5 linked regions of the Homo sapiens genome follow. The protein of the gene in region 4 purifies or fractionates together with the protein of the main gene of each other region. This does not show direct contact. Each region holds a gene or a part of one and is shown on either strand. Other genes may lie near its edges.

What was found.
Region 1: the proteins of SRSF12 (region 4) and KIF13B purify together in Homo sapiens (affinity purification with mass spectrometry, with the first as the bait; one large-scale study listed by BioGRID). This does not show direct contact.
Region 2: the proteins of SRSF12 (region 4) and NAV1 purify together in Homo sapiens (affinity purification with mass spectrometry, with the first as the bait; one large-scale study listed by BioGRID). This does not show direct contact.
Region 3: the proteins of SRSF12 (region 4) and RASAL2 purify together in Homo sapiens (affinity purification with mass spectrometry, with the first as the bait; one large-scale study listed by BioGRID). This does not show direct contact.
Region 5: the proteins of SRSF12 (region 4) and TESK2 purify together in Homo sapiens (affinity purification with mass spectrometry, with the first as the bait; one large-scale study listed by BioGRID). This does not show direct contact.

Annotation. Positions count from the first base shown.
Region 1 is NC_000008.11:29,139,814-29,145,956, forward strand, and holds part of KIF13B (kinesin-like protein KIF13B), read right to left. Parts: intron 2,491-6,143; coding exon 2,344-2,490; intron 805-2,343; coding exon 655-804; intron 379-654; coding exon 250-378; intron 1-249. UniProt on the Homo sapiens protein: Involved in reorganization of the cortical cytoskeleton. Regulates axon formation by promoting the formation of extra axons. May be functionally important for the intracellular trafficking of MAGUKs and associated protein complexes.
Region 2 is NC_000001.11:201,778,588-201,784,730, reverse strand, and holds part of NAV1 (neuron navigator 1), read right to left. Parts: intron 4,311-6,143; coding exon 4,172-4,310; intron 3,720-4,171; coding exon 3,422-3,719; intron 2,556-3,421; coding exon 1,862-2,555; intron 1,326-1,861; coding exon 879-1,325; intron 1-878. UniProt on the Homo sapiens protein: May be involved in neuronal migration.
Region 3 is NC_000001.11:178,442,538-178,448,680, reverse strand, and holds part of RASAL2 (ras GTPase-activating protein nGAP), read right to left. Parts: intron 6,007-6,143; coding exon 5,452-6,006; intron 3,164-5,451; coding exon 3,019-3,163; intron 1-3,018. UniProt on the Homo sapiens protein: Inhibitory regulator of the Ras-cyclic AMP pathway.
Region 4 is NC_000006.12:89,096,563-89,102,011, reverse strand, and holds part of SRSF12 (serine/arginine-rich splicing factor 12), read left to right. Parts: intron 1-3,064; coding exon 3,065-3,434; 3' UTR 3,435-5,449. UniProt on the Homo sapiens protein: Splicing factor that seems to antagonize SR proteins in pre-mRNA splicing regulation.
Region 5 is NC_000001.11:45,479,377-45,485,519, forward strand, and holds part of TESK2 (dual specificity testis-specific protein kinase 2), read right to left. Parts: intron 1-6,143. UniProt on the Homo sapiens protein: Dual specificity protein kinase activity catalyzing autophosphorylation and phosphorylation of exogenous substrates on both serine/threonine and tyrosine residues. Phosphorylates cofilin at 'Ser-3'. May play an important role in spermatogenesis.

The sequences.
Region 1 (6,143 bases), on a different chromosome or scaffold from region 4:
CAGGTCTGGCTCACTAGCGGGTGTTTGGAAATGGAGGAGGCGATTTTGCATTATCATGAGTGGGGGAGGCTCTGCTCTACTTCCAAAATTTGAAAAGGAACATAATACTTACCATCTAAAGACCTGCAGTTCTCAAAATCAGCTATTAGGTTGGTGCAAAAGTAATTGTGATTTTTGCCATTAAAAGTAATGGCAAAAACTGCAATGACTTTTGTATCAACGTAATACTAGGATGAAGCTGGGACTTACCATGCACACCAGTTTGTTCTCCTGGGTCTCCTTCTCAAAGGAGACCTCTGCCACCTCATCGCCTCCTGCGATCCTCTCCCCAACATCACCACTGAGTCGCATCACCTCCACGTGCAGCCGACCTGCCACCTGCAGCAATGAGGGAAGGCAGAAACATTTCTCCAGATTTGGTTCGTGCTCCCTTGAGATGACCTCTCTTCTCTTTTACAGTCAAGTTGTCAGGTTAATGGTGTATGGGAATTTAGAGGCCTAGTCTCTGACAGTTACTCTACCCTAAGAGTCCTTGGAAACACAAGGTATTAATAAGACACGTTACTGACAAAAAATAGCAACAATATCCCATCACCACCCTCTTGTTTCTTAAACTATTCTCTACAGGAAACAAGGCATGAAGAGAAAACCAACCTCTCCTTTCTGGTTGATGATGGGAACAGCGTATTGTAACTTCACATCATAGAAAAGTGACTCGAGGAAGACATTGGCCACCCCAATGAGACTGTGATTTTCCTGCTCATCATAGAATGGATCAGCACGTTTGAAGTATGATCGTATTACCTGTAAAGAGATTGAGAACACACAACTTCAGAAAAACCATTTACAATAAATGCATTCAACCTACTGCTTTTTGATGCACTCTAGGTTATTAAACTTAACTTTCATCATCCTAACTCTTGTATTTTTTAGAGTAAAACATTCTAAAGTTTTTGCTAAAGCACAGCGCTGTATTACTCCCATACACACTCTTCCTCATTCCCATTCACAATGGAGGTGAGCATCCTCCACCCATGACAGAGCGATCCCAGTAACAGGTCATTACTTTTATCAGCTATTCTCCTTTACATGGAAATTTTGCCACAAAATAAACAATATATGTTGACCAGAAAAAGAAGTAGAGTGTGCTAAACTACACTTCACCTTTCTTTTGGGAAAGACAGTAATTCTTATCTGCTCTGCTTATTCCTAGCAAGTCATCAGATAAAACTGCTGCTAATAAAAGGTGAGCCCTCACACCTATAATCCCAGCACTTTGGGAGGCCAAGGCAGGCGGGTCACCTGAGGTCAAGAGTTTGAGACCAGCCTGCCCAACATGGTGAAATCCCGTCTCTAATAAAAATACAAAAATTAGCCAGGTGTGGTGGTGGGCGCCTGTAATCCCAGCTACTCGGGAGGCTGAGGCAGGAAAATCACTTGAACCCAGGAGGCAGAGGAGGCAGTGAGCCAAGATCGTGCCACTGCACTCCAGCCTGGATGACAGAGCAAGACTCCATCTAAAAAAAAAAAAAGGTGAGCCCCTATGGGAGTGGCTCTTTCATTATTTATTACTGTTGTTTTATTTCTAAGTTGAAATAGGAGAGGGGTACCAAAGAGACAAACATGTTTTAAGCAAAAACATCACCTAACTATAAGAAACATTTTTATTGATAACAATCTGGAAAAATCATTTTTACAAAACAAAAGGCAAAGGAAGTAAACAACTCTATGCGGAAACAGGTCTAACGGTAATGAAAATATGTTCAGACATACATAATATGCACTTCTATTTTAAATACGTATGAGTACATGGCTGATCTAAGTAAGAAAACCTGCAAGTTAAGGACAGAGTACCAATGTATAGATTTATGGCATTTATGTTATGATCAAAACTTCTTCAAAAATGCTCCTTGGAGTGTAAATATTAAGATACCACCGATGTTCAACTTACAAAACATATATTGTAGGTTTATTATCTGCAAGGTTAAACGGGTTGAGCAATGGGAGGAGAGACAAATAATGAGGCCTGGCCTCTGTCCTAAAGAGGTTCCCAGAGAGCACAGGAGACAGACACCCGCACACCAACAGAAGTCAGAATGGAAAGTGGAGAATTCTGCTAGAAATCTAAAAGACAGAAATGAGAAGAAAAAAGAAGATACCAGAAAGAGAGATTATTAAAATTGTTAATTTGCTAAACAATTTAGGGGATTAAAATAAACCTTACTCCAGAAATAGGATTATAATTTTGGAAAAAGAACAATTTTCCCCTGAAATGGGTAGACTCATTCCAGCTTGGCTCCTTCCATAATTACCAATTAAGTGATTTTCTCTTAAATAACTTACTGGGTTATCTTCTTCACACTCTTTCCACTCCTGATAAAGGTCTCTCATATCCAACAGCCTGTTGTCCAGTTTTTCCAAAGACCAAATCTGCTTTCCTTTTCCTTTTCTTCTCACCTGGATTGCAGGCTCACTAAGAAGAGAGCCTCGCTGCAAAGAGAGTAAGAATGACCGTGAGAAACACACAGGCAGCGGGGAAGTCAAAGCTGACAATTCCACCCCCATCAGTCAAATGTCATTACACCAAAACTCAAATGGCAATCATCCTTTAATCTGTTGATTACAAAGCCTCCAAAAAGTCTTACAAGCTATAACATAATACCTTCCTACCCAAGTGCAATCAAAACCTATTTATAAACTTCACTTTAAGTATAAACTTACATTAAAAATTTTTTGGGGGGAGTTGCTGGGCATGGTGGTTCACGCCTGTAATCCCAGCACTTTGGGAGGCCAAGGCAGGTGGATAACTTGAGGTCAGGAGTTCAAGACCAGCCTGGCCAACATGGTGAAACCCCTCTCTACTAAAAATACAAAAATTAGCCGGGTGTGGTGGCACGTGCCTGTAATGCCAGCTACTTGGGAGGCTGAAGCACAAGAATTGCTTGAACCCAGGAGGCAGAGGTTGCAGTGAGCTGAAGTCTTGCCACTGCACTCCAGCCTAGGTGACAGTATGAGACTCTCAAAAATAAATAAATATATACATGTGTGTGTGTGTAAAGAGACAGCATCTCACTCTGTCACCCAGGCTGGAGTGCAGTGGCACGTCATAGCTCACTGCAGCCTCGAACTCCTGGGCTCCAGTGATACTCCTGCCTCAGCCTCCCAAGTAGTTAGGACCACAGGTGCATGCCAATACACCCAGCTAATTTTGTCTGTTTTGCATAGAGACAGGGTCTTGCTATATGGCCAAGGCTGGTTTGGAACTCCTGGCCTCAAGTGATCCCCCTGCTTCAGCCTCCCAAAGCACAGGGATTATAGGCATGAGCCACCACATTTAAATTTTGACTGTAGTTGGAAATGATTTTAAGTTTAAAACCCAAAAGACCACATTTAACAGCAAGTTGAAATAAAAGTATTTTATTCAGGCCACCATATGACCACAACGTTATCAATGGGGAGAGAGGGAAAGTTTGCTGCGGTGTATGGGGAAGAAACGTCCCTCTCAGAGGCTGAATTTTGTTTTATTGTAATGGATGGCATCTTCAGGGGGTATAAAACATGAAACACTTAAAAGAGTAAACTGAAAAGTCCCCGATTCACCCACGTGGAAGCAATTAATGATACCAGTTTCCAAATATGCATTGTTTGGGTTTCTTATTAAGATCATACAGAACTAGATGGAAGCGGTGCTCACACCACATTATTACCGTGCCAAATGCCACTGAGTTATTCACTTTAAAATAGTAATGTTTGGCCAGGTGTGGTGGCTCACGCCTGTAATCCCAGCACTTTGGGAGGCCAAGGCAGGCAGATCACAAGGTCAGGAGTTTGAGACCAGCCTGGCCAATATGGTGAAACCCCGTCTCTACTAAAAATACAAAAATTAGCCAGGCATGGTGGTGGGCGCCTGTAGTCCCAGCTATTCAGGAGGCTGAGGCAGAAGAATCGCTTGAACCCAAGAGGAGGTTGCAGTGAGCCGAGATCGCGCCACTGCACTCCAGCCTGGGCAACAAAGCAAGACTCTGTCTCAAAAAAAATAATAATAATAAAATTAAAAAAAAGTAATGTTCTATTATGCAAGTATCACACCTCCCCCCCAAAAAAAGTATGCTCTGAAGTTTTTCCAGCTTATAAGAGCAATGTGGATTTTTTTCAGAGTAGAACTTGAGCAATGTGTTTTTAATGTAGAAAAAATTTTAGAACTTTTAAAAAACCACAAAGTTAAAAAAAAAAAAGCCCCTATACATTTCCCCGAGGGAGACATATCTACTGGTTATCTAATCAATTTAGGTTTACTGGCTTAATTTTTCAAATGTTCTACTTAAAACTGAAGAGAACTTTGAAATACATTGATGTTTCATTAACATCTTGCCTACAATCATTTTCTAAGAAAAAAATTTAAATAATAAAACAAACATTTGAGAATTCTTACGGTCAAAATGCGTGTGTGTGTTTTTTTTTAATTGAGACAGAGTCTCTTTCTGTCGCCCAGGCTGGGGTGCAGTGGCCCAATCTCGGCTCACTGCAACCTCCGCCTGGGTTCAAGTGATTCTCCTGCCTCAGCCCCCCAAGCAGCTGGGATTACAGGCGCCTGCCACCACGCCTGGCTGATTTTTGTATTTTTAATAGAGATGGGGTTTCATCATATTGGCCAGGCTGGTCTCGAACTCCTGACCTCAGGTGATCCGCCCACCTTGTCCTCCCAAAGTGCTGGGATTACAGGCATGAGCCACCATGCCCGGCCATCTTACAGTCAAAATTAAAGGCCCTCCTACCTTATATTCAGCCAGCCAGTGAATAAATACAAAAATCCCATTTGTGACCTGTGTGGGTAGTGGCTTTCCTGGGGGAGAATGCTGGACCTGGGACTATAATAGCAACGGGCAATATGGTGCAGCTACCATAACTTAGCCCTCTTGCAAAACTGGAAATAAGAAAAAAATTCACCAGAGAAGAGTTCACAGAATGGACAGGACTTTAAACAACTTTTCAAATACCAAAAAATAGTCTGTTGCACGAAAGACTACAGAGTCAGCCTAACTAAGGAGAGATGCCAGGCGACATGAGTTCTTCCAGGCGTTGACATGGCTGCCCCAGTGCAGAGCCACACCTTTCAACAAAGCCCAAAAGAGGTTACGGAGAAAAGGGCTGCGGTCATGCTTACTGGGGAAAAATCTTTCAGGTTTCTGCTTTTTTCAACTTATACACTATAAAATCAAAGAGGATCTTGTACTTCTCAGCCTTCAAGGAGAAACTAGGCCCTGAACCTTCTCCTTGTGACTGGCCTTCCTCTTCGGTTTTTGGTGAGTCCTACTGTACCCAGACTTTGCCCTACAAATACTAGTGTTCTAATTAAGTAAAAATTTTCAAAATACACACAGAGTATACAAAAACAATGATCTGTAAAGTAACGATCATATCATATTTACAATACCTTTCTCAAAATACTAAGAATCATATTTGCCAAATATCTAACCCTGTACAAAACGCTGACCTTGATGCTATGATGTCATAGGGAAAGATGTAATCCTTGCTATCAAATTAGAATAATATCCGCCTGTAATCCCAGCACTTTGGGAGGCCAAAGCAGGTGGATCACTTGAGGTCAGGAGTTTGAGACCAGCCTGGCCAACACAGCAAAACCCCATCTCTACTAAAAATACAAAAATTAGTCCAGCGTGGTGGCACACACCTGTAATCCCAGATACTGAGGAGGCTGAGGCAGGAGAATCGCTTGAACCCAGGAGGCAGATGCTGCAGTGACCCAGGATCACACCACTGCATTCCAGCCTGGGTGACAGAGTAAGACTCCCTCTCAAACAAAAAAAAGAAAAATAGAATATCCAAGATGGATTGATTAAAGTTTTGCTGTGTTGACTACCGCAGGCTAAACAGAACACACGGATCCACAAAAAATTCATCTGAATAGAAAATTCTACCTAATCCATCAAAAATTATGTATGAATGTGATCAAGAGCTAGAAAAGAACCTCAAAAAAAAAAAAAAAAGATGAAGGAAAAAAACCCAACTGAATGGCAAAGATAGAAGATTGTGATGGGACTTTCCCCCTACATTTTATTAAATTTATTATACCAAAAAAAGTATGATCCTGAATATATACATGACACCATGACACAACTAAT
Region 2 (6,143 bases), on a different chromosome or scaffold from region 4:
AGTTAGTTATTTAAAAGATCATATTATGGCACTAGGGACAGTGGCATGAGCCTGTAGTTGCAGCTCCCGGGAGGCTGAGGCAGGAGGATTGCTTAAGCCAAGGAGTTTTGAGTCCAGTCTGGGCAACATAGTGAGACCCCATCTCAAAAAAAAAAAAAAAATAGATCGTATTATGGTAGGTAAAAACTACCATATAGGTAGTTTGATAACCTTGGCATATAGGGGGAAGGGAGGGGAAAACTAGGATGTGATATAAAAGAAAAGATTCTGGGCAGCCAGGTGTGGTGGCTCATGCCTGTAATCCCAGCACTTTGGGAAGCTGATGTAGGCAGATCACTTGAGGTCAGGAGTTCAAGACCAGCCTGGCCAACATGGTGAAACCTGGTCTCTACTAAAAATACAAAAATTAGCCGTGCATGGTGGCAAGTGCCTGTAATCCCAGCTACTTAGCAGGCTGAAGCAGGAGAACTGCTTGAACCTGGGAGGCAGAGATTGCAGTGAGCCAAGACTGCACCACTGCACTCCAGCCTGGGCAACAAGAGCAAAACTCCATCTCAAACAAAACAAAACAAAATGATTTTGGACTAGGAAGCAAAAGCTCTGGATGATAGGTTAACCTAATTATGAGATCTTGGATGAGTCATTTAACTTCTTTGTGCACAAGTTTCTTCATTTTTAATATAAGAATAATAATTTAAAAACAAAAACACATCTTACCTATCTCATGGAGTTGTTGTGAAGCAAATTAAATTACTTAATATATGTGAAAAAATGTCAAAAGTCACAAAATGGCAATAAAATATAGGATAGTATTGCCAATGGCAAAATGAGCCCAAGACACGGAGACAGGCCGAGGTTCTGCTGTCTTTTCTACCTACCTGTCCAGTTGCCCAGCTCTGGGGCTTCCACTCCAAGTCAGCTCTTCCGTCTCTTCTTCTGTGGGAGCAGCAGGGGGAGCAGGTGGGGTGGGGACGGGAGTACTGCTGGGGAAGGCACTGGGGAGGCTCATTGGCATCTGGAGGGACTCCATGCTCCTGTGCAGGCCTGAGAGTTTGGGGTACATGCGGGTCTCTTTTGGCACACTGAAACCACTCATTAGCTCCAGGCCCTGGGAGAAGCTGGCTGAGTTAATATTGAGGATGGGTGCCGGACTGGGGGTGAAGCAGGAAGGGAGAGGGCCCCCAGATGCTGAGCTTGTAGCATGCAGATCTGGGACCTTTGAAGCATGGGTGGTATCACTGGATGATGGTAGATCCAGACTGTTGGAGTTGACCTTGTCAAGATTGGCTAGTGAGGGTGGTTTGACAAAGCTCTTCGCTGTGGCCCTGAGAGAAGATCAAACGAAATATTTAGAATAATAGAATTACAGAGTGAGAGGCAGATAGGACCTTAAAGAAATCCTATCCAGTCTTGTTTTCTGCCTATTTGCTAAGCACAGAGGCTTATCCTAATGCTGTTGTGAAATACAATGCAAGGAAATCTGATACCCAACTTGGGGCACATTCAGCTTAGATAAGGGGCCAGCATATGCACATGGGAGATACAAGTGAATTTATGCAAATAGGTATATATGTGTAAATAAACAGTAAAAACACCCATACAAGTGCTGAAGACAGGGTAAGCATTGATCAGAGAATAGTACAAATGAGGTAAGTTTTGAAAGAGGGATTCAGTCTTTCAGAACTGTCAGAAACTAGATTCTTTCAGAACCTTGGCATATGGGGGAGAGGTGGGAAAGAGCCATGCAAAGGCCTAGAGACAACGGTGGATAGGCCATGCCTCATCTAGTCCAAGGAGGGCAGAGATATGCGAAAGAATGACAAAGCAAACAGACAAGGAGGCGGCTGCCCACATTGGGTACCTGAGAGGGGTTGGTGGCAGCTCTGCCAGCTTGGTGGCTGTGGGGTGGCTTGCTTGGTTCTTGGGAGTACTTTCTGGGGAGCCAATACTCTTCAAGGAGATGTTGTCTGAGTCCAAGGCCACTGCCTTGGCTTTGGCCTTCTCCTTTTCCCGATCTGTCTGATTGACAGGGGCTGGAGTGGTCCGCCCACTGGCTACCTTGGTAGGCTCCTTCAGTCTGGAAGGCGTAAGGCCTCCCTGCTTGGTGCTGAGGAGACTGGGGTCAATGCTGCTGCTCACAGGGCGAGGTCCACCCCGCCCGCCGGTCACGCTCATAGAACTTGACTTGGCTGGCCGGGGCAGGCTGCGGTACTGGATGTTAGAACGGGCTCCAGGAGCCAGGAATCCTGGCTCTGCACTGTTGGAAACATCTAAGCTAGTCTTGCGCCCATTTACTGGCTTGACAGGGATGCCTGAGGACTTCTGGATCTTGCTGAGAGTGGCTGAACCACCAGTTTGCATGACAGTGGCTGTGCCTGTGGCAGGAGGAGGCTTCTTGTAGCCAAAGGATCCCGAAGTGGAGGGGCGAGCAATGCCCGAGGGGGGCTTCTTAGCATCACTCAGGCGGTCCCGACCAGCATCAGAGGAGGAGCGTTGGAGCCCAGTATTCTTCACTGCAAGCTTACCCTTGTCTGTAGCTTTGCCCTCAGGTTTGCCTGCAAGAGGACGGGAAATGAGAAAAGAGCTGAAACTGACCAGTATCTTAAAAACCCACCCTTTTCTTTCCCTCCATGGGAGAAGGGAACATTGTCCATGTATTGTAGACTTTTAGAGGCCTAAATTTGGGTAAACAGGTACAAGATAAGCTGATAAAGTTTCTTGTCTGAAAGACTCTGGCTGGGAGGGGTGGGGAGGCTAGGAATTTTTTTTGTTTTGCTCCCAGAGTAGAATGGTCCATTTTGATTAAAAAGGCAGAGGCAAACACAAAGATGATCAAGAATATCCATCTAACAACTAGTTGTGGAAGGGAAAAAAAAGGTGGGGAAGCAAATGGAATAGAGTATGACAATATCTCTTAGTAATTAGAGACTACAGGAAAATGTTGATTAAGGCTAAAAGTTACCCAAGGGGCCAACTTTGGGGGCACTATAATTCTCTTGCTGTAGCCATTTTATTTATTGTTTTCTTAGGATCTTCCTGAGATGTCAAGCTGTATCCTATGAAAATAAGTGCCTTGAGTGACTAACTTGGGAGAAAGAAGAAAGCAAGCATTGGAAGTGTTTGGAAGGAGGCCAAACTAGTCTCTAAACATAATATACTTCCTCCTGTACCTCATATTAACTGGGATTTTGGCCCAGCCACTTAATCTCTTTGAGTTTCTATTTCCTCCACATTTGTAAAATGGAAATAATAACACCCATCTTTCCTAACTCACGGGACTGTCCTTAGACCAGATAAGATAATGTCTGTTAAAGCACTATGCAAATGTTTGCTATCATCCTATGGGTTAATGACCACTAAGAAGAGGAGCAACCAAAGAACTAGGTCTTTGCCCTTGTACCTTCCTTTATTCCAGGCTCACCTGCGACTTTGAGGGCACTCTGGGCTGTGTGAGTGATGGGGGAAGTTACAGCCACAGGTGGGGTCTTGCCCTTCTTCAGGGAACCAGGGTGGCCCAGGCTGATGGGCTTTTTCAGTTCTCCACCCTTGGATGAATCATCACAGCTCTCAGGCCGCTCCCTCCGCCACTTAGAAGTCCCAGGTTCCATCTTCAGGCTACCACTGTCGTACTCCAGTTTTTTAGGGGCTTTCTCCTCTGATTCACTAAACCAGCTCAGCCCACTTTCTGCCAGTGAGCGCTTCTCTGAGTCTGTGCGTAGCTAAAGAAAAGAGAAAAAGGCAGAGTGAGATACTTCTATGCAGATGGGAGACTGGATAGCTGACAGGATTGATTTTAGTTAGTACCTGGCGCTGCTCATCTCAGAGTATTAAGTCAAACTGAGGGTTTCTACCTATACCCCTAGGGTTTCCAACAGCAGATGACATATATCTCGGGGTTTCTTTTTCTCCAGTTGGAATAGCTCTTACATGTATCACTCTAGATTGGTGTAGGCACTAAGTATACACAATATGACAACATCTAATGTCTTGGGTGAGTAGCCTTAGCTTTTTTTGGGAGGGGGTGGGGGCAACTCTAAAATGACCTGGCCAAAGGCCTATGAGAACCAATCCCATGGAGTGGGTGTGTACGTGCAACCCCATACACAGATAATGCCATTTGCCCTGTGGTTCATCTTGAGATGGCAGCTTGGGTGTTTGCAAACTCACGTACCACTATTGTTGAGTTCCTGCGAGAAGCAGTGGGAGTACTTGGGAGGGAGTTGAGTGAGGAGCTGGCATTGAATTCTTCTGAACTGAGATTGTCTGAGGCATCGCTGAGTCCACTACTGATGGAGCTGCTTTCATCCCAGCTACAGGACAGGAGAGATGAAGGTCAATCGTTAAAACAGAAGCCCAGGCAAAAAATAAATGTTTCACATTGATGCAAGAATGGCTCTGCACCAGTATATAGGCTAGCCAAAAGGAGAAAACCTGGGGGTTTGTCCTAGGTTTGTCAGCAACTCAAAGTGTGACTTAAACTTCCTTGTAATTTGGTGATGTTCTTTTACAAAAGGAAGAGACTCTGCCTTTATCTGGCAAGAGAAAACGTTGTATCTTCTTAACAGAAAGGTATTTTATAAAGGCAAGGTAATTTTTGGATCAATCTAATTATACAAACCAATTTACTCTCCCTGTAAACAACCTCCATTCTTAAAATTAACATATCTTTGTTCATTTTTAGACGCGTTCTGCATCTATTCTCCCCCTCCTTTTCTAAAAATGTCTATAACTGGTAATGAGGCCCAGAAAAAGATTTCTCTTTTCTAGAACCTCTTAGACTTTTATCATTTCTCATTGAGCCTCCGTTTATGCAGTTCACCCTATCCTGGGATCGGGTCCTGCTTCTAAACAGAACATACTGTTCTTCTGTTAAGTGAACCAAATCTAAGGTGCTGTGGCCATGTAGAGGGGCCAAATTTGTGCTGAATGGATTCATTTCTCTGCCAATTGCTTGGAATATCAGGTCTGTGGTATTAGGGAGATACTGCTGTTAAACATCTTTATCTGTAAACATCTGTATCCAAAAACGCTACTTCATGCACTAAGTGAACTTACTACAACCTCCATATCTTTGTAGCTTGAGCTCTACAAACATTCATTTGGCTGTTCTTTTTTTTTTTTTTTTTTTTTTTGAGACGGAGTCCTGCTCTGTTGCCCCAGGCTGGAATGCAGTGGCACAATTACAGCTCCCTGCAACCTCCGCCTCCCAGGTTCAAGCAATTCTCCTGCTTCAGCCTCTCAAGAAGCTGGGATTACAGGCACCCGCCACGACACCCAGCTACTATTTTTTTTTTTTTTTTAAGTAGAGACAGGGTTTCACCATGTTGGCCAGGCTGGTCTTGAACCCCTGACCTCAAGTGATCTGCCCGCCTCAGCCTCCCAAAGTGCTGGGATTATAGGCGTGAGCCACCGTGCCTGGCCTGGCTGTTCATTTTTGGGTTTAACAAGTTTCAGTCAGAAAGTTTACCCTTAGCCTCAAAACTAGCCTCCTCTACCATTTATATTAATTTCCTCTTATTCTATCTTTGCTATTCACATTTCTTTTCGATCACATGCATTGTTTTCTAAGCTCGAATTCTGTCTCCTGTAAGCTTTCTTCAAAGGTCCTGTTTTCCAAGTCTTTCTCAATTCCTTTTGGACCTTAAAAAGTTCTTCAGATTTCACTCAAGTTTTACAGCCTAAAACTGAACACGGAAGTTCAGTAAGACTGCTATACATGAGTATTTGTTTGTGCCGGTAGGAATTAACTTCTAAATCCTTGTTATCTGTGTGCAGAGTAGGTTTGTTTATCAGCATTGCATATATGCAAGGACTAAAAGGCTGAAGATTTTTTTGTGTGAATTAGCTGCTATCTGAAAAAATTTTTCTTTTTGATTTATTCTGAGTTTCATATCATGGAACAAAAATCAGACATGCAAGTCATCTAAGTGGTTGGCCCAGATCTCAGCTGGCTCCCTCTAATTCATGTGCTGGGAATAGGAAAGTGGGTGGTTTGGACATTTTGGCTTTGTTGCTCTGTAGTGATTTATCCAAATACATTGAGAAAGAGCAAAGAAAGCATGGGGATTAGAACACACTACAGAGTTCTTTAAATTTTATGACTATGAAATATAGCCGTTATTGAATGACAATCAACCTCTTCC
Region 3 (6,143 bases), on a different chromosome or scaffold from region 4:
TTTGAGATGCTTTTTTTTTTTGGTGGACTTTTTTAACAAAACACAAATCATTAAAGCAAATCATGAGATATAATTTATGGCTGTAATAAGCTCTTTATGTAAATGACACTATAAACCTCTTTGTACTTTTCTTAAGCTCTTTGTACCATTCTTAATGTCTATATGATTAGAGAAAAAAATATGAAGATAAGCAGGAAGACAAAAAATCTGCTTCAGAGCAGAAACTAATTGTAGTAGCTACTATAATGTGTCTGCTTCATGTAAACACAGTGATCCTGTTTCTTGAATGGCGACTCACTCTATTCCTTACAGCCTGCCTCCTTTCCTCCTGAAACCAGTGTGAGCCATCACTAGTGATATTTAAGGTGCCAAATGCAATATCCATTCTTTTTCTTTACCTTCCATAATTTCTGACTCTACTGATGCTCTCTTCTCTATTGGTATCTAGGACTCAGTATTTTCCTGGTTTTCTTTCTTTTTTGGATGCTCTCTCTTTCTCTGATCACTTCTCTGATTCCTCTTCTTCATTCTATACCATAAACCCAGGTGCACTCTAAGATCTATCCTTGGCCCTGTTCTCTTCCTGCTCTGGTAATCTTACAGCTTCATTTAACCTCTCCACAAGCATAAATTAGTCTCAAATTTCCAACAGCCAGCTAGACAGGTATCTTAGATTGCCTATCTAAAACCCCTGAGATTTCCTACTAGAACTTCAAATTGAATATATATGTAATTTCCACTGTTTCACACCTACTACTTCTGTGGTTTCTATTCCTGTTAAGAATCTCATCATCCCCCTAGTCACTCACAACACCCCACAATTCTCTGTAATATTCGTTCCCTCCTTGCTTCCCACAAACTGAAAAATTTGCCAAGTTCTATCAGTTCAACCTTAATATTTCTCATATCCGTCTTCCTCTCTATTCTTACTTGCATGATTACAGTCATTCAGAGTCTCATTCTTTCTTATTACAATGGCTTTTTTTTTTTTTTTTTTTTTTTTTTTTAAGAGAAGGAGTTTTGCTCTTGTCTCCCAGGCTGGAGTGCAATGGTATAATCTTGGCTTACCGCAACTTCCACCTCTCTGGTTCAAGCAATTCTCCTGCCTCAGCCTCCTTAGCTGGGATTACAGGTGCCCGCCACCATGCCTGGCTAATTTTTGTATTTTTAGTAGAGATGGGGTTTCAGCATGTTGGCCAGGCTGGTCTCGAACTCCTGACCTTGGGTGGTGGGCCTGCCTCGGCCTCCTAAAGTGTTGGGATTACAAGTGTGAGCCACCGCGCCCAGCCTACAATGGCTTCTTAATTGATTGGCTTTCAGTAGGCTTTCTTCACCTTTATTTATTTATTTATTTTTTTTAAGACAAGGTCTTTCTCTGTCACCCAGGCTGGAGTGCAGTGATGTGACCATAGCTCACTGCTGCCTCGAACTCCTGGGCTCAAGCAGTTCTCTTACCTTGGCCTCCTGAGTAGCTGGAACTATAGATGTGAGCCACCATGCCTGGATACAACTCGTCTTAATCAGTCTGCTAAGTTAATTCCACTGAAAACACCTGCTCAAAACTTTCAGTGGCTCTCCAGTTATTACTGTAAACTTTAAATCTTCACCCAGGCATTTGAGGTTTTCACAAATTAGTTCTAATTATTGTTTAATCTTTTTGTTGTTGTTGTTCACATGTTTCTTTCATGTCTTTTTCCAGCTAAATAGTTTTATTCCACACATTCCTGGTTCTGTCCCACCTCTATGTCTTTTTGTTTATGGGTCCTTTCCCCCATGCTACTTCTTATCTTATCTGCTCTTGCTCAATGTCTGTTTTTAACCTTTCTATTCATCAAACTACATACAAAACATAAATGTATTTCACACAGAAAGTTTGACAATTCTATCAGCTGGATTCAATTTTTTTAAAATTATTTGAAAGAACACAGAATGTCTCTTTTTGGTATAGAGATATCCCTAATGTTATATCCTTACATTGCAAACTTCTCGAGGGTAAAAATCTCTCCAATCATTCAACATGTTTTTACTTTCTATTCTTGATAGTCACACGTGGCTGTTGAGCATTAGAAATGGCTTGTGCAAATTAAAATGTGTGATACATGTGAAATACACACTGATTTTCAAAAAGAATAAAAAAGTAAAACACCTAATTAATAACTTTTATTCTTCTAAACCATTAAATAGTATTTGGATATACTGGGTCAAATGAAATATGTTATCAATTTCACCTGTTTCTCTTCATCCTTTTTAATACTGTGACTACTAGAAAATTTACAATTACTCAAAAAATAAAAATAAATAAAAGTATTCACACATGGGTCATATTTCTATCGGACAGTGCTGCTCAACAGTGTGTGCAGGTAGTGGGGATATGGAGGTAAAACAAAGGGCTATTTCCTTCAAGGAACTCACATCTGCTCTATCATGATGTATATTAAAGTGACCAGCACAGTACCTTACTCTAGCGGTTAATGCCTCAATTTCATGACCAAATCTGGAACTGCAAGTGCGTAGCCTAGTCAGCAAGAACTACTGATTGGACAAAAATTAGTTATGTTAAAAATTCTAGAGAAAGGCAGAAATTTGTGGGGGAGTTGTGGGAAGTGGCAAGAGTTTCTTCACTTTTGATTAGAGTTTTGCATGCATGATAACAAATGTCAGGGTAACACTCTCAAGACTAGGTAATAATATCATCATATAAACACCCAAAACTTTGGGCAAAACAGACCACCTCAGATCTATCAGTGGACACTGCTGATATTACTGTGCATCCTGGAATCATGAAGCTGGGGACCTGGGGTAGCAGTGTATGCTGACAAGGTTTCTGTTTCTACATTTATTATTATTTCTCTACTGGTGAGTACTGCAGACTTCTTACAGCCATGATTCAAACCTTAACACCTGAGTCAGCTAGAACTAAATAACATGCAGAATTTGAGCTCAATTCGTCTCATGGGGGTGAAATAGCTTAAAACTGAAAAGTAAATAAAAGAAAATAGATGTTTTTCTCTTTCATACCCAGTGCGTCATGAAGATACTGTTGTCCCACCAACTTGAGGTATTCCTCAATGGATTTGGTGGCAATAGTGTTCTCTCTGAAGATCAAGACATCATGCTCTCCACAACGATCCACCTCAGACATCACCAAGTCAGTCAGAAAATCCTGGTAGAATAATGTTCAATCAGGCAGAAAGCAACTGAATAAATAATACACATTAGAAGAGACTTTTGAAATATCAGACATCCTGGAAATGCTGCTTTAAAACTAAAGCTATCAGATTCATCTGAAAGGAAAAAAAGCAATCAGGATAAAATGTTAGGTGTTCCTACCCCTACATTTAAAATTCCCTCAAAGATTTTCCATTGCACTTTTGATAAAGGCCATAATTCTGAATGCAGTCTACAAGTCCCTATATTTTCTGGTTTCTGTCTACCTTTCAAGCCTTGTACCTTTTCTTTTTAGGTCCTTTAATACACCAAGCCCTTTCTAACACACACAATGTTCTCTATTCACCACAAAGCCTTTTTTTTTTTTTTTCCAAATACTGTTCTCAGTTCTGCTCTGCTCCCACCCTTGCTTCCACTCCCACTGTCAGGTAGCTCATTCCTGGGATCCTTTGGATTTTAGTTCACACATCATTTCCTCAGTGAAGGTGTCCCTGACCAACATTGCCCCTGAACTCCATTAGTCAGCTCCCCTTGCTCCATTTCATAGTATCATCTCTCTTTTTATCCTCTGTAGTTCTCACTGTAATCATATTTATTTCTGTAATTACTTGATTAATATTTATTTTCCCCAGAAAACCAGTTTCTGTTTTTGTTTACCACCATATCTCCAGCACCTAACAGTTTCTGGCATATATTAGGTGTTCAATATATAATACTTACAAATCGGTCCACAGTGTCAATGTAGAATCTACTGAACTCATCACTTGAAGTCATTGTCTAGGCTATCTTTCTGTCTGCCCGCCCACCCATCCATCCGTCCATCCATCCATCAATCCAGAAGGATAGCATAAGGGGAAATAAAGGTGCAAAGAAACAGCTGCTTCATTCCTCAACAGTCTTAAAGAACTTCTAGTAAAGCTCAATGTTGGTTGTTCAGTTTGAATGTGATAACATCATATATTTTGAATGCTATATAATTATTGGATATTTCAAGGGCTGCAAATGCCAAAATAGGAGGAATATGCTGATTTACTTTTACTTTAAAATTAAGCATTTTAAACATCAATGGGACTTACTCTGGGGCAGCTTAACAGTATAACAGAGTTGTAGACTTAGGAATCACTATTAAACTTAATGCTAAGAGACAGGAGGAAACTCTTGGGGGTAACGGTAACATTCTGTATCTTGATCATAGTGGTGGTTTCGATGGGTGCAAAATCGGTCAAAGCTTACTGAACTTTTCCACTTTAAATGGGTGTTTATTCTACCTAAAATGTACGTAAATCAGTATTAAGTCATTTAAAAAAGTCTTAATGTATATTCTGAACCTTGAGCAACTGAAAAGTAGAAATATATCCATACAATTCAAAATTTCAGTGACACCTCGCTCCAAACTCATAAGCTTTTTAATGACAGAATGCCCAAGATTATCATAAGTAAATTTAAACACAAAAGTTATAATCCATAGAAGCCAGATAAGAGACTAAATATTGAATATATTGATATATTCCGACATATCAAGAAATAGTAATAGTACTTTGTTTGGTTCTAAATACATTATTCTAGCTGTGAGTTTCTTTGGATCTGAGATGTAATTTTATCATGACCAGTTTGCATACAGTATAACGGTAACTCTTCCTAGTTAATATCCTTCATAGGTCAAAGACTCTCTCAACTAGTTTTTGTTCTTCCCACAACCAGCATATTTCTCCTTTAAATAAAAAATATTCCTGAGTTTTTACTTCTATCCAAGGTGAAATAAGTGTATCATGAAACAGCTACCAATTGTATCATATCCCTTGGATTTTTATTCTAAATATAGATTTTAATCCCACAAAGACTCTTGCTAATACTCAATATGCTTCTGGAATACTTCCTTCTGTGCCTAGAGGATACAGTCATCAGTTAAACTTAAATAAAATACAGTGAGGAAGAAAACCACCATACAACACTCTAGAACTAAATTAAAGATAAGGAACCTTGAACATGCTGTAGGGTTATCGTGCCAATCCTACCATTTATTTTGTCAGACAAGAAAGAGCTGGCTGTGTTATCTATGTTTCATGCAAATTGGCTTTAAATATTTGCTGGTCTCTCCATTTTACTTGTTTAGTTTTATAATCTTCATCTTTTCTGGATCTAATAGGTTTTCTTCTTAATTCTTCTTGTTTTGACCAATAGTAAAGCACATTTCTCTAATTTGGATTTCTACAATATCCATATCTTGGTTTATGAAAGGTAGGGAAGAGACTTCAGGTACTGCAATCCCCCTTTTCCACTTACCTTGGCTCTGCCAGTACTTTGAAGAATGTGCACTAAGGCACAAGCCAACTCCTCTTTATTTCTCACACTAATTACTGGCTCAAGGACAGAACACAGCATGGTGTAGTTGCTGGTGACAAATTCTGCAAATTCTTTGTATTGCTCCATAGGCAGAATGGTGATAGTTTGGAAACGTGATTTAATCCGAATAGAAGGTCCTCCTGTCTTTCCTTTGTTGGGTGTAGGTGTACTCACTGGATACCACTTTTCTACAAATTGGCGACCAGTCACACTGGCAGTGGGGATGTTGACTAGCCCTACATAATTATTCTTGTCCTTTTTTTTCTTTTTTTCCACATCCTTGTAAATGTGAACTGTGATACTATGAAGAGGTGGAAGGCTGAAGAATTCAAAATGTTCGCCCCAGAAAATATTGTCTGCTTTGGTCTTGCTGGTTGTACGAGCAAAGAGGGTATCATCAAGGCACAGTTCGCAGAAATATTTCTTTTTAGGGGCAAGGTCCTTGGCTTCAATGATCCATAAACGAAGAACATTTTCAGCTCGCCTGCAATTGTCCTATAAAGAGGCAACAAAGCTGAATTTCAGAGCTGACATTGCAGAAAAAAAAACATTTTTTTCTTAAGTTGGCAATGTTCATTAGGTACTCTATTAAGGGGAGTCAACAAATAATGAAAGGGATTGCTATCTCATTG
Region 4 (5,449 bases):
TCCTCTTTCAGCTCACCGAGAAGTACCAGGGCAGTGAATATTTAGTATTTCTTATAGTACACATCTGCTGATAGTGAATTATCTCAGCTTTTGTCTGAAAACATCTTTATTTAAAATTCATTTGTGAGAAATATTTTTGCTGAGGATAGAATTCTATATTGGCAGTGATTTTATTTTTCTCTTTAAAAATGTCATTCCATTGTTTTTCTGATACCCATAGTGAGTTGTCAGTCTTGTGGTTGCTCCTTTGAAAGAAATTTGTCTTTCATTCTCTGGCAAGGTTTTCAGATTTATTTTTATTTTTATTTTTTTTTGAGACAGAGTCTCACTCTGTCACCTGGGCTGGAGTGCAGTGGCACAATCTCGGCTCACTACAACCTCCGCCTCCCAGATTCAAGCGATTCTCCTGCCTCAGCCTCCCGCCACCACACCCAGCTAATTTTTGTATTTTTAGTAGAGGCGGAGTTTCTCCATGTTGGCCAGGCTGGTCTGGAACTCCTGACCTCAGGTGATCCACCTGCCTCAGCCTCCCAAAGTGCTGGGATGACAGGCATGAGCCACCGCACCCGGCCGGTTTTCAGATTTTTTCTTTGACTTTGGTTTTCATCAGTTTCACTGTGATGTGCCCAGTGTAGTTTTCTTTGCCTATGTGGGGTTTATTGAGCTTTTTGAAATTGTGAGTTAATGCTTTTTGTTAGTTTTGTAAAATTCTATGCTATTATCTCTTCAAATATTGCTTCTGCCTTATTCAGTCTTTCCTCTGGCTTGTGTGACTGTATGCTATACATCTGCTGTGTTCTTTTAGGGATTTCTTAAAATTCCTTTTCTCACACTGTATTTCGGTAGGATGTTTTTCTAATGATCTTTTAGTTAACTATTTCTTTTCTTTTTTTTTTTTTTTTGTCTTGGAGGTTTTCTCTTGTTGCCCAGGTTGGGGTGCAATGGCACGATCTTGGCTCACTGCAACCTCTGCCTCCCAGGTTCAAGTGATTGATTCTCTTGCCTCAGCCTCCTAAGTAGCTGGGATTATAGGCATGCACCACCATGCCAGGCTAATTTTTGTATTTTTAGTAGAGATGGGGTTTCACCATGTTAGTCAGGCTGGTCTTGAACTCCTGACCTCAGGTGATCCACTCGCCTTGGCCTCCCAAAGTGGGATTACAGGCATGAGCCACTGCACCCAGTCTAGTTCATTATTTCTTCTGCTATATCTAGATTGCTGTTAAGACCATCTAATGACTTTTTAATTTCAGATATCATATATTTTTAGTTTTAAATGTCTATTTGTTTCTTTTTATAGATTGTAGTTTTCCACTGAACGATCTTTTTATCTGTTTTGTCTTTTCCTCTTATTTTCTTAAATATATTACTCATAGTAATTTTTTAAATTCCTGTTTGATGATGCCAATATCCAAATCACTTTGGGAATGATTCTTTGCCTTTTATTTTCCTTAGTTTTTAGTTATTCTTGCCTGTTTTTTTTTTTTTTAACATAACATGTGGACATGGACAAAAAATTATAGAGGCTCTGCATGACATTATCATTCTCCAAAGACAGTTTTCTTCTGGTAGACAGAGTACTGGCAGATCACTTTGATCTTAAGGCTTGGTTTTGGGTGTTGTTAAAGCTGCTTGTTTTGGCTTTGAATTTATTCCTAGGGCATGGCCCTTACCTCTAGATTGTAGCCCTTCTGGGTTGTTACCTAATGTTCCTCATTGACCTTTTGGGAGTTTGAACTCTAATCTCTCTCTCAGCACTGTGTGTCTGATAAAAATTTCAGCGCAGTTCTTGAATTTCTGAATTCCGGTTTTTTGCTGGTCCCTTGGAATCTCTTCCATACACACACAACTTAGAAGATGGCCAGTGATTTAAGGATAATTTGTAGGCAAATTTTAGAGGTACTTTTTGGTCTCTAATTCACTCTTCTCTAGAGTTTTTGCCTCTCGTGTCCCACCCATTTTGGTAGCCCTGAATTAACTTTTCTCTCTTCAGCTTAGTCAAATAGCCATTTTCTGGTTGGGCTCAACTCCTCCATGCTGTCATTTGAAAAATGGTCTTAGTAAAAGAGCCAAGGCTTGTAATCCCTCAGGTTCTTCCTGCTTGTGTTGATTATCCTCCAGTGCCTTCGAACAGTTGTTTTATAAATGTTGTGTAGCTTTTCAATATAGTTGTTTTCGGCTGGGTGTGGTAGCTCACGCCTGTAATCCCAGCACTTTAGGAGGCCGAGGCAGGGGGATAACCTGAGGTCGGGAGATTGAGACCAGCCTGACCAACATGGAGAAATCCCATCTCTACTGAAAATACAAAGTTAGCTGGGCGTGGTGGCGCATGCCTGTAATCCCAGCTACTCTGGAGGCTGAGAGAGAAGAATTGCTCAAACCTGGGAGGCGGAGGTTGCGGTGAGCTGAGATCGTGCCATTGCACTCTAGCCTGGGCAACAAGAGCGAAACTCCGTCTCAAAAAAAAAAAAAACATGTATGTGTGTGTGTGTGTGTATATATATATACACACATATATATATACACACACATATATATATACACACACATATATACACACATATATATGTGTATATATATACACACATATATATATGTATATATATATGGAGAGAGAGAGAGAGAGCTGTTTTCTATGGGAAGATTAGTCTAATACAAGCTGTTCTGTCATGGCAGGACCCAAAAGTCCTACATCTAGATTTTTATTTTTATAAGCATTATTTGAACTGTAAATAATTGATTTTTTTAATCTTTTTTTCTTCAGATTTTTGTACCTCTTAAGAGCTGTATAACTCAGACCAAATATGCAGTGTATTTTTCAGAACTGATCCCTATATGTCTAGCAAAGTAAAAATTTTTGGCCATATATTCTAGTATAACAAATATTACAAACTTGTTACTTATGTTTGAACCAAAAGCATGCATAATAAAATGAGAAATTTTTTTAGCTTATCTAGTAAAAATATAACTAATGTTATGTAAAGTATGTAAGTTCCTGAAAGTGTTATTTCCTGATCTCTTATTTTGTGTGAAATATATGCTCTAACATTATGGATGTTTGCAGGTCTCGACACAGGCGATTTTCTTATAGCCAGTCTAAATCTCGTTCCAAATCATTACCAAGGCGGTCTACCTCAGCAAGGCAGTCAAGAACTCCAAGAAGGAATTTTGGCTCTAGAGGACGGTCAAGGTCCAAGTCCTTACAAAAGAGGTCCAAGTCAATAGGAAAATCACAGTCAAGTTCACCTCAAAAGCAGACTAGCTCAGGAACAAAATCAAGATCACATGGAAGACATTCTGACTCAATAGCAAGATCCCCGTGTAAATCTCCCAAAGGGTATACCAATTCTGAAACTAAAGTACAAACAGCAAAGCATTCTCATTTTCGGTCACATTCCAGATCTCGAAGTTATCGTCATAAAAACAGTTGGTGAACAGCAACAGAAAGAGCACCACGCCGTCTTTAATATAAGTTATTAAACTCTCATTATGTTAAATAAAAATTCTTTAAGGCATACAGAAAATGCGAGTTGATATTAGTTACTTTGGGCATATGGAAGAAATAAAATCTCTAGCTTTGGATTAATAAAAATTTGGTCTCCATTTAAAGGGCCCACACTACAAATTATGATTTGTCTAATGTCACCATTTTATGGACCATTTTTTATTTACATTGTGGCAGAAGGGTACTTTTCAAGGGAAATGAGTAAACTGGAACTAATTTTTAAAATTCTACTTGCATAGTATTAGTACTATTAATAATACCTTTTACACAAATATTTTTGACTTTAAAGCACTTTCATGTAAAAAGTAACTATGACTGTATAATTGCATAGAGCAGACTTAAGCTGTTTGACACCTATGTCTCTTTTGTGTCTTCTGTTTAAACTTGGGCCAATTCCTGGTGGATATTAGTTCATATTACAAAATTCTGATGTTCCAAAAAGTAGAATATATATAGAGATCAAACATTCAAAAGATACATTCTCTCCTAAGCTCAAAGGTTATATTTTTATTGGGTAGAACAGTATAGGTAAGTTGACATGAAATTGCATCCTGCACCATGACCACATTAGTAATATCAGAACTTTTGAGAAATACTGGATTTTGAATGGTTTGAGACTAATTCTTTAAAAATTAGGCTGAGCAACACTCACAATCCAAAAATATTCATATTAAGACTTACACATTTGAAGAATGGTACATTTTGTATAAAATCATATTTGATACCATTATTTCCACATACCTACTTTTCATCTGTTGCTTAATTTTTTCTTTTTAGAGTTCTTGCTCAACTTTATATGGAACAAGTCTTATTATTTTTGAAAGAGTGTTTAGTACCTTGTATTAAGAAACTTGGCCAAGCGTGGTGGTTCACTCCTGTAATCCCAGCACTTTGGGAGGTCGAGGCGGGCAGATTGCTTGAGGCCAGGAGATTGAGACCAGCCTGGGCAACATGGTGAAATCCTGTCTCTAAAATTTAAAAAAAAGAAGAAGAAGAAACTCGAGACTACATCTTCAAAAAACAACTTTGCAGTATTTGAATTTTACATTATACTGCCCTTCATTTCTGACAGCCAAATAACTTTATTGATATTTATTGCTTTTGTAGTTGTTATAACTAATAATTTCTTTGAAAATGTGTTGTAGTTTATGTTTTTCAAAGGGTTTTGGTAGTGTTTGTGATAGAATGGTTTTGCATATGATTATTATAGGGGATATATTTATAGAGCTCTACTTGTATACTTTGTGACTTACATTATGAAAACTTCAAAGTTCTCAATCCATACAGTTAGTATTTGTATCCAGAGTGTTTAAGAAAAAAATCTGTCTTATATTTTTAGTATATAGGAGCCAGTGTTGCTTCTATTTGTTTTGAATACAAATTCCAGTTTTCTTTGCATATTAGATCCCATATGTAAGAAACAACCTTAAACAATAATTTGTATGCTGGTAATATTTGGACAAGTGCCATAAATTAATGTATATTGTACTTTCTGAATAGATTTTCTCTAATCATAGCAAAATTTATTTCAAAACTACAACTCTTTGAATTATTCCGCTATAATAAAATTTAGTTATAAAATTATGTGGCACTACTGAAAATCTAAAGGATAATCTGAAGAATGAGTAAGACAGATATTGATAGAAATTTTTAGTATTTTCAGAATGTTTGGGTTCATACACATAAGTGAAATCATTTTAAAAACTAGGGGCTGGGCACAGTGGCTCACACCAGTAATCCTAGCACTTTGGGAGGCCAAGGCAGGAGGATTGCTTGAGCCCAGGAGTTTGAGACCAGCCTGGGCAACATAGCAAGACCCCTTTATCTATAAAAATAATAATAACTAGGTACCATTGTGAAAAATAATAACTAGGGATTGATTATAGTATCTTTACTCTGTATTCACAAATCTCTGTATTCCTGAACATATTTAATCCTTTGATT
Region 5 (6,143 bases), on a different chromosome or scaffold from region 4:
CACTGACCACAAGATCAATACCACCCTAGTTTTCCATACTGCAGAAAGAAAAAAAAAATTTTTTTTTTTTGGAGACGGAGTTTTTGCTCTTGTTGCCCAGGTTGGAGTGCAATGGCTCAATCTCGACTCACTGCAACCTCTGCCTCCTGTGTTCAAGCAATTCTCCTGCCTTACCCTCCAAAGCAGCTGTTACAGGCATGCGCCACCACGCCCAGCCCCCCCAAAAAATTATATTATTCTATTTTATTTAATTCAGAGGAAGAGAGAATAGCCTCCACACTTGTTCCAAAGACAAATTAATAAATAACACCATATTTAATCTGTATAATGATTTACAGTTTACAGTTCACAGAGCATTTTGATCTTCACAATAATTGTTTTCTTGTTCCCATCGGATAGATTAAAAAAATAAAGGACTGAAATGCAGAAGGCCCTTCTTTTTTTTTTTTTTTTTTTTTTTGAGATGGAGTCTCACTCTGTTGCCCAGGCCAGAGTGCAGTGGCAAGATAGATCTCGGCTCACTGCAACCTCCATCTCCCTGGTTCAAGCCATTCTCCTGTCTCAGCCTCCCGAGTAGCTGGAACTACAGGCGCATGCCACCACACCCGGCTAATTTTTGTATTTTTAGTAGAGACGTGATTTCACCATGTTGGTCAGCTGGTCTCGAACTCCTGACCTCAGGTGATCCACCCGCCTCAGCCTCCCAAAAAGTGCTGGGATTATAGGCGTGAGCCACCACGCCCAGTCAGGCTCTTCTATCTTTTTTACTCAATATCCAAAAGCTATAAAAGAAAAGACTGAGGGCCGGGCATGGTGGCTCACACCTGTAATCCCAGCACTTTGGGAGGCCGAGGTGGGCGGATCACAAGGTCAGGAGTTCGAGATCAGCCTGGCCAATAGGGTGAAACCCCATCTCTATTAAAATATAAAAATTAGCTGGGCGTGGTGGCACACACCTGTAGTCCCAGCTACTCAGGAGGCTGAGGCAGAAGAATTGCTTGAACCTAGGAGGTGGAGGTTGCAGTGAGCCAAGATTGCGCCACTGCACTCCAGTGTGGGCAACAGAGCAAAACTCAGTCTCCAAAAAAAAAAAAAAAAGAAATCTCACTTCTGTGAATTTATCCCACAAATATCCTTGCACACATATAAAATGACACATTCAAAGGCCCTTTTTACAGCATTGTTTATAATATCAAAACACTGGAAACATAAATGTCCATTATAAGGAATTAGTTAAATAAATTATGATACATCCATTCAATGGAATACTATGCAGGTGATTAAAAAGAAAATAATAATAATAATAAATGAATAAATAAATAATATATATATAGGCCACAGTGGCTCACACTTGTAATCCCAGCACTTTGGGAGGCCAAGGTGGGTGGATCACCTGAGGTCAGGAGTTCGAGACTAGCCTGACCAACATGGTTAAACCCCGTCTTTACTAAAAATACAAAAATTAGCCAGGTGTGGTGGTGCACACCTGTAATCCCAGCTACTCAGGAGGCTGAGGCAGGAGAATCACTTGAACCCGGGAAATGGAGGTTGCAGTGAGCTGAGATCGCACCACTGCACTCCAGCCTGGGTGATGAAGTGAGATTCTGTCTCAAAAAAATAATAATATATATAACCAAAAAAAAAGAATGAGGAAGCTCTCTATGTACTGATCTGGAAAGGTCTCTAAGATATATAAAGTAAATAAGCGGCCGGGCCTGGTGGCTCACGCCTGTAATCCCAGCACTTTGGGAGGCCGAGGTGGGCGGATCACGAGGTCAGGAGATCGAGACCATCCTGGCTAATACGGTGAAACCCCATCTCCACTAAAAATACAAAAAATTAGCCAGGCGTGGTAGCAGGCGCCTGTAGTCCCAGCTACTCGGGAGGCTGAGGCAGGAGAATGGCGTGAACCCAGGAGGCGGAGTTTGCAGTGAGCCAAGATTGCGCCACTGCACTCCAGCCTGGGCGACAGAGCAACACTCCGTCTCAAAAAAAAAATAAGCAAGATTGGGGGTGGGAAGTGCAGAACAGTGGGGAACCATGGGCAACTGTACATGAAAAGTGGGAAAAACAGGACTATACAATTGACCCTTGAACAACACGGGTTTGAACTGTACAGGTCCACTCATGTGCTGTAGTTATTCACAAGTGTGATCATAGCACACTATGGCCTCAAACTCCAGGCCTCGAGTAATCCTCCCACATCAGCCTCTGGAGTAGCTGAAACTACAGGCAAAGCTGTATTACATACAGATTTTTTTCAACAAATATATTTTTTAAATTTTTGGAGATGTATAACATTTTGAAAAAAACTCAGAAACAAAACACCTAGCCTAGAAACATCAAAAAAATTAAGAAAAAGTTAGGTATGCCATGAATGCAGAAAATATATGTAGATACTAGTCTATTTTATTATTTACTATAAGATATATACAAATCTATTATAAAAAGTTAAAATGTATAAAAACTTATGCACACAAATACAAACCATACATGGTGCCATTCATAGTCAACAGTAAACAAATGGAAAGGTGCAGTATTAAATCACAACTGCATAAAATTGACTATAGTATATACTGTACTTCTGTAATAATTCTGGAGCCACCTCCTGTTGCTGTTTCAGTGAGCAAGTGTTGTGAGTAGCCCCTAAAATGCTGTGTGATGCTAATCGTCTCCACGTGAGCAGTTCCTTCCTCCAGTAAAAAGTGTCACAGTAAAAAGTGATCTCTCAAGGTTCGTGCATATTTTTCATCATGCTTAGTGCAATACTGTAAACCCTGAATAACACCATGAGATCCATACCAAGTGCCACTAATGCTGGAAGTGCTCTCAAGAAACAGAAAGGTCATGACATTATACGAAAAAGTTGGCCAGGCATGGTGGCTCACACTTGTGATCTCAGGACTTTGGGAGGCTGAAGGCAGGAGGATTGCTTGAGCCCAGGAGTTTGAGACCAGCCACGGTAACATAGTGAGACCATGCCTCTACAAAAAAATAAAAACTTATCCTGGAGTGGTGGCACACACCTGTAGTCCCAGCTACTCAGGAGACTGAGATGGGAGGATGGCTTGAGCCTGGGAGGTCGAGGCCATAGTGAGCTATGATCAGACCACTGCACTCCAGCCTGGGCAACTGCCCCTGTCTCAAAAAAATAAATAAATAAAAATTTGAATTGCTTGATATGTACCACAGATTGAGATCTGCAGCAGTAGTGGTCAGCCATTAAAAAAAAAAAAAAAAAAGTAAATTCATGAAGCCAGGCTATGCAATGCCAACAGCAACAGCAGTTAAGTTTTGCGGGAAGTCAAAAATTATACCTGGGGCCAGGCGTGGTTGCTCACACCTGTAATCCAGGCACCCTGGGAGGCCAAGGGGGGTGGATCACCTGAGGTCAGGAATTTGAAACCAGCCTGGCTAACATGGTGAAACCCTGTCTCTACTAAATATACAAAAATTAGCTGGGCGTGGTGGCAGGCCCCTGTAATCCCAGCTACTCGGGAGGCTGAGGCAGGAGAATTGCTTGAACCCAGGAGGTGGAGGTTGCAGTGAGCTGAGATGGCGCCATTGCACTCCAGTCTGGGTGACAAGAACAAAACTCCAATTCAAAAAAAAAAAAAAAATGTCCGGGCGCAGTAGCTGACGCCTGTAATCTCAGCACTTTGGGAGGCTGAGGCGGGCAGATCACAAGGTCAGGAGATCAAGACCATCCTGGCTAACACGGCGAAACCCCATCTCTACTAAAAATACAAAAAAAATTAGCCGGGCATGGTAGCGGGTACCTGTAATCCCAGCTACTCAGGAGGCTGAGGCAGGAGAATGGCGTGAACCCAGGAGGTGGAGCTTGCAATGAGCTGAGATCACACCACTGCACTCCAGCCTGGACAATAGAGAGAGACTTCGTCTCAAAAAAAAAAAAACAACAACAACAAAAAAGAGGAGCCGGGCGTGGTGGCTCACACCTGTAATCCCAGCACTTTGGGAGGCCGAGGCAGGCGGATGGCCTGAGGTCAAGAGTTCAAGACCAGCCTGGCCAACATGGTGAAACCCTGTCTCTACTAAAAATACAAAAAAATTAGTTGGGCATGGTGGCGCACACCTGTAAACCCAGCTACTCGGGAGGCTGAAGAGGGAGAACTGCTTGAACCCGGCAGGCAGAGGTTGCAGTGAGCTGTGCCATTGCACTACAGCCTGGGCAACAAGAACGAAACTCCGTCTCAGAAAAAAGAAAAAAAAAAAAAGGAAATTAATGAAGCCAGGTTATGCAACACCATCACCAACAGCAGTAGTTAAGTTTTGCCGCGAGGGGGCGGCGGAGGGGGGGTCAAAAATTATATTTGGGGCCAAGGCACAGTGGCTCATGCCAGTAATTCCAGCACTTCCGGAGGCTGAAATGGGAGGAGTGTTGATGCCCAGGAGTTTGAGACCAGCCTAGGCAACATAGGGAGGCCCTGTCTCTACAAAAAAAAAAAAATTAGCCAGGCATGGTGGCATGCACCTGTGGTCCCAGCTACTCATTCAGGAGGCTAAAAAGGGAGGATCACTTGAGTCTACAAAGTTGAGTCTACATCGAGCCATGATCCTGCTACTGCACTCCAACCTGCGCAACAGCAAGAGATTCTGTCTTAAAAAAAAAAAAAATTATACTTGGATTTTCTACCGCACAGGGGTTGGCTTCCCAACCCCTGTTTTGTTCAAGGGCCAACTGTATCATTTCATTTTTAATTCTTCTTTTTTTTTTTTTTTTTTTTTGAGATGGAGTCTCCCTCTTGTCGCCTAAGCTGGAGTACAGCGGCGCGATCTCGGCTCACTGCAACCTGCGCCTTCCTGGTTCAAGTGATTCTCCTACCTCGGCCTCCCGAGTAACTGAGATTACAGGCACCTGCCACCATGCCTGGCTAATTTTTGTATTTTTAGTAGAGACGGGGTTTCACCATGTTGGCCAGGCTGGTCTCAAACTCCTGACCTCAGGTGATCCACCGGCCTCTGCCGCCCAAAGTGCTGGAGTTACAGGCGTGAGCCACCACGCCCAGCCATATATTCTTATTTGTAAGCATTCGCCTAAAGAAAGTCTAAAAGAGGCCGAACGCGGTGGCTCATGCCTGTAATCCCAGCACTTTGGGAGGCTGAGGCGGGCAGATCACTTGAGGTCAGGAGTTCAAGTCTAGCCTGGCCAACACGGTGAAACCACGTGTCTACTAAAAATTAAAAAATTAGCCGGGCGTGGTGGTGCACGGCTACTCAGCTACTCAGGAGGCTGAGGCTGGAGAATCGCTTCAACCCGGAAGGCGGAAGTTGCAGAAAGCCGAGACTGCGCCACTGCACACCAGCCTGGGCGACAGAGTGAGACTCTTGTCTCAAAAATAAAAAATAAAGGGCCGGGCGCGGTGGCCCAAGTCTGTAATCCCAGCACTTTGGGAGGCCGAGGCGGGTAGATCACAAGGTCAGGAGATCGAGACCATCCTGGCTAACATAGTGAAACCCTGTCTCTACTAAAAATACAAAAAATTAGCCGGGCCTGGTGGCGGGCGCCTGTAGTCCCAGCTACTCGGGAGGCCGAGGCAGGAGAATGGCGTGAACCCGGGAGGCGGAGCTTGCAGTGAGCCGAGATCGCGCCACTGCACTCCAGCCTGGGCAACAGAGCGAGACTCCGTCTCAAAATAAATAAATTAATTAATTAAATCAAATTAAATTAAAAATAAAAAATAAAGTCTAAAAGAATATAAAGAGACTATTCAAAGTGTTTGGGAGAGGGCATGGAACCAGGTTAATAAAGAACAGAGATGGAAGTAAGATTTTTCACTGTTTTGTTTTTTGTTTTTTGTTTTTTTTTGAGATGGAGTCTCGCTCTGTCGCCCACGCTGGAGTGCAGTGGCGCGATCTCGGCTCACTGAAGCTCCACCTCCCGGGTTCACGCCCTTCTCCTGCCTCCGCCTCCTGAGTAGCTGGGACGACATACATGTGCCACCACGCCCTGCTAATTTTTTGTATTTTTAGTAGAGACGGGGTTTCACCGTGTTAGTCAGGATGGTCTAGATCTCCGGACCTCGTGATCCGCCCGCCTCGGCCTCCCAAAGTGCTGGGATTACAGGCATGAGCCACCGCGCCCAGCCGACTTTTCACTGTTATATAAATTTATTTTTTAT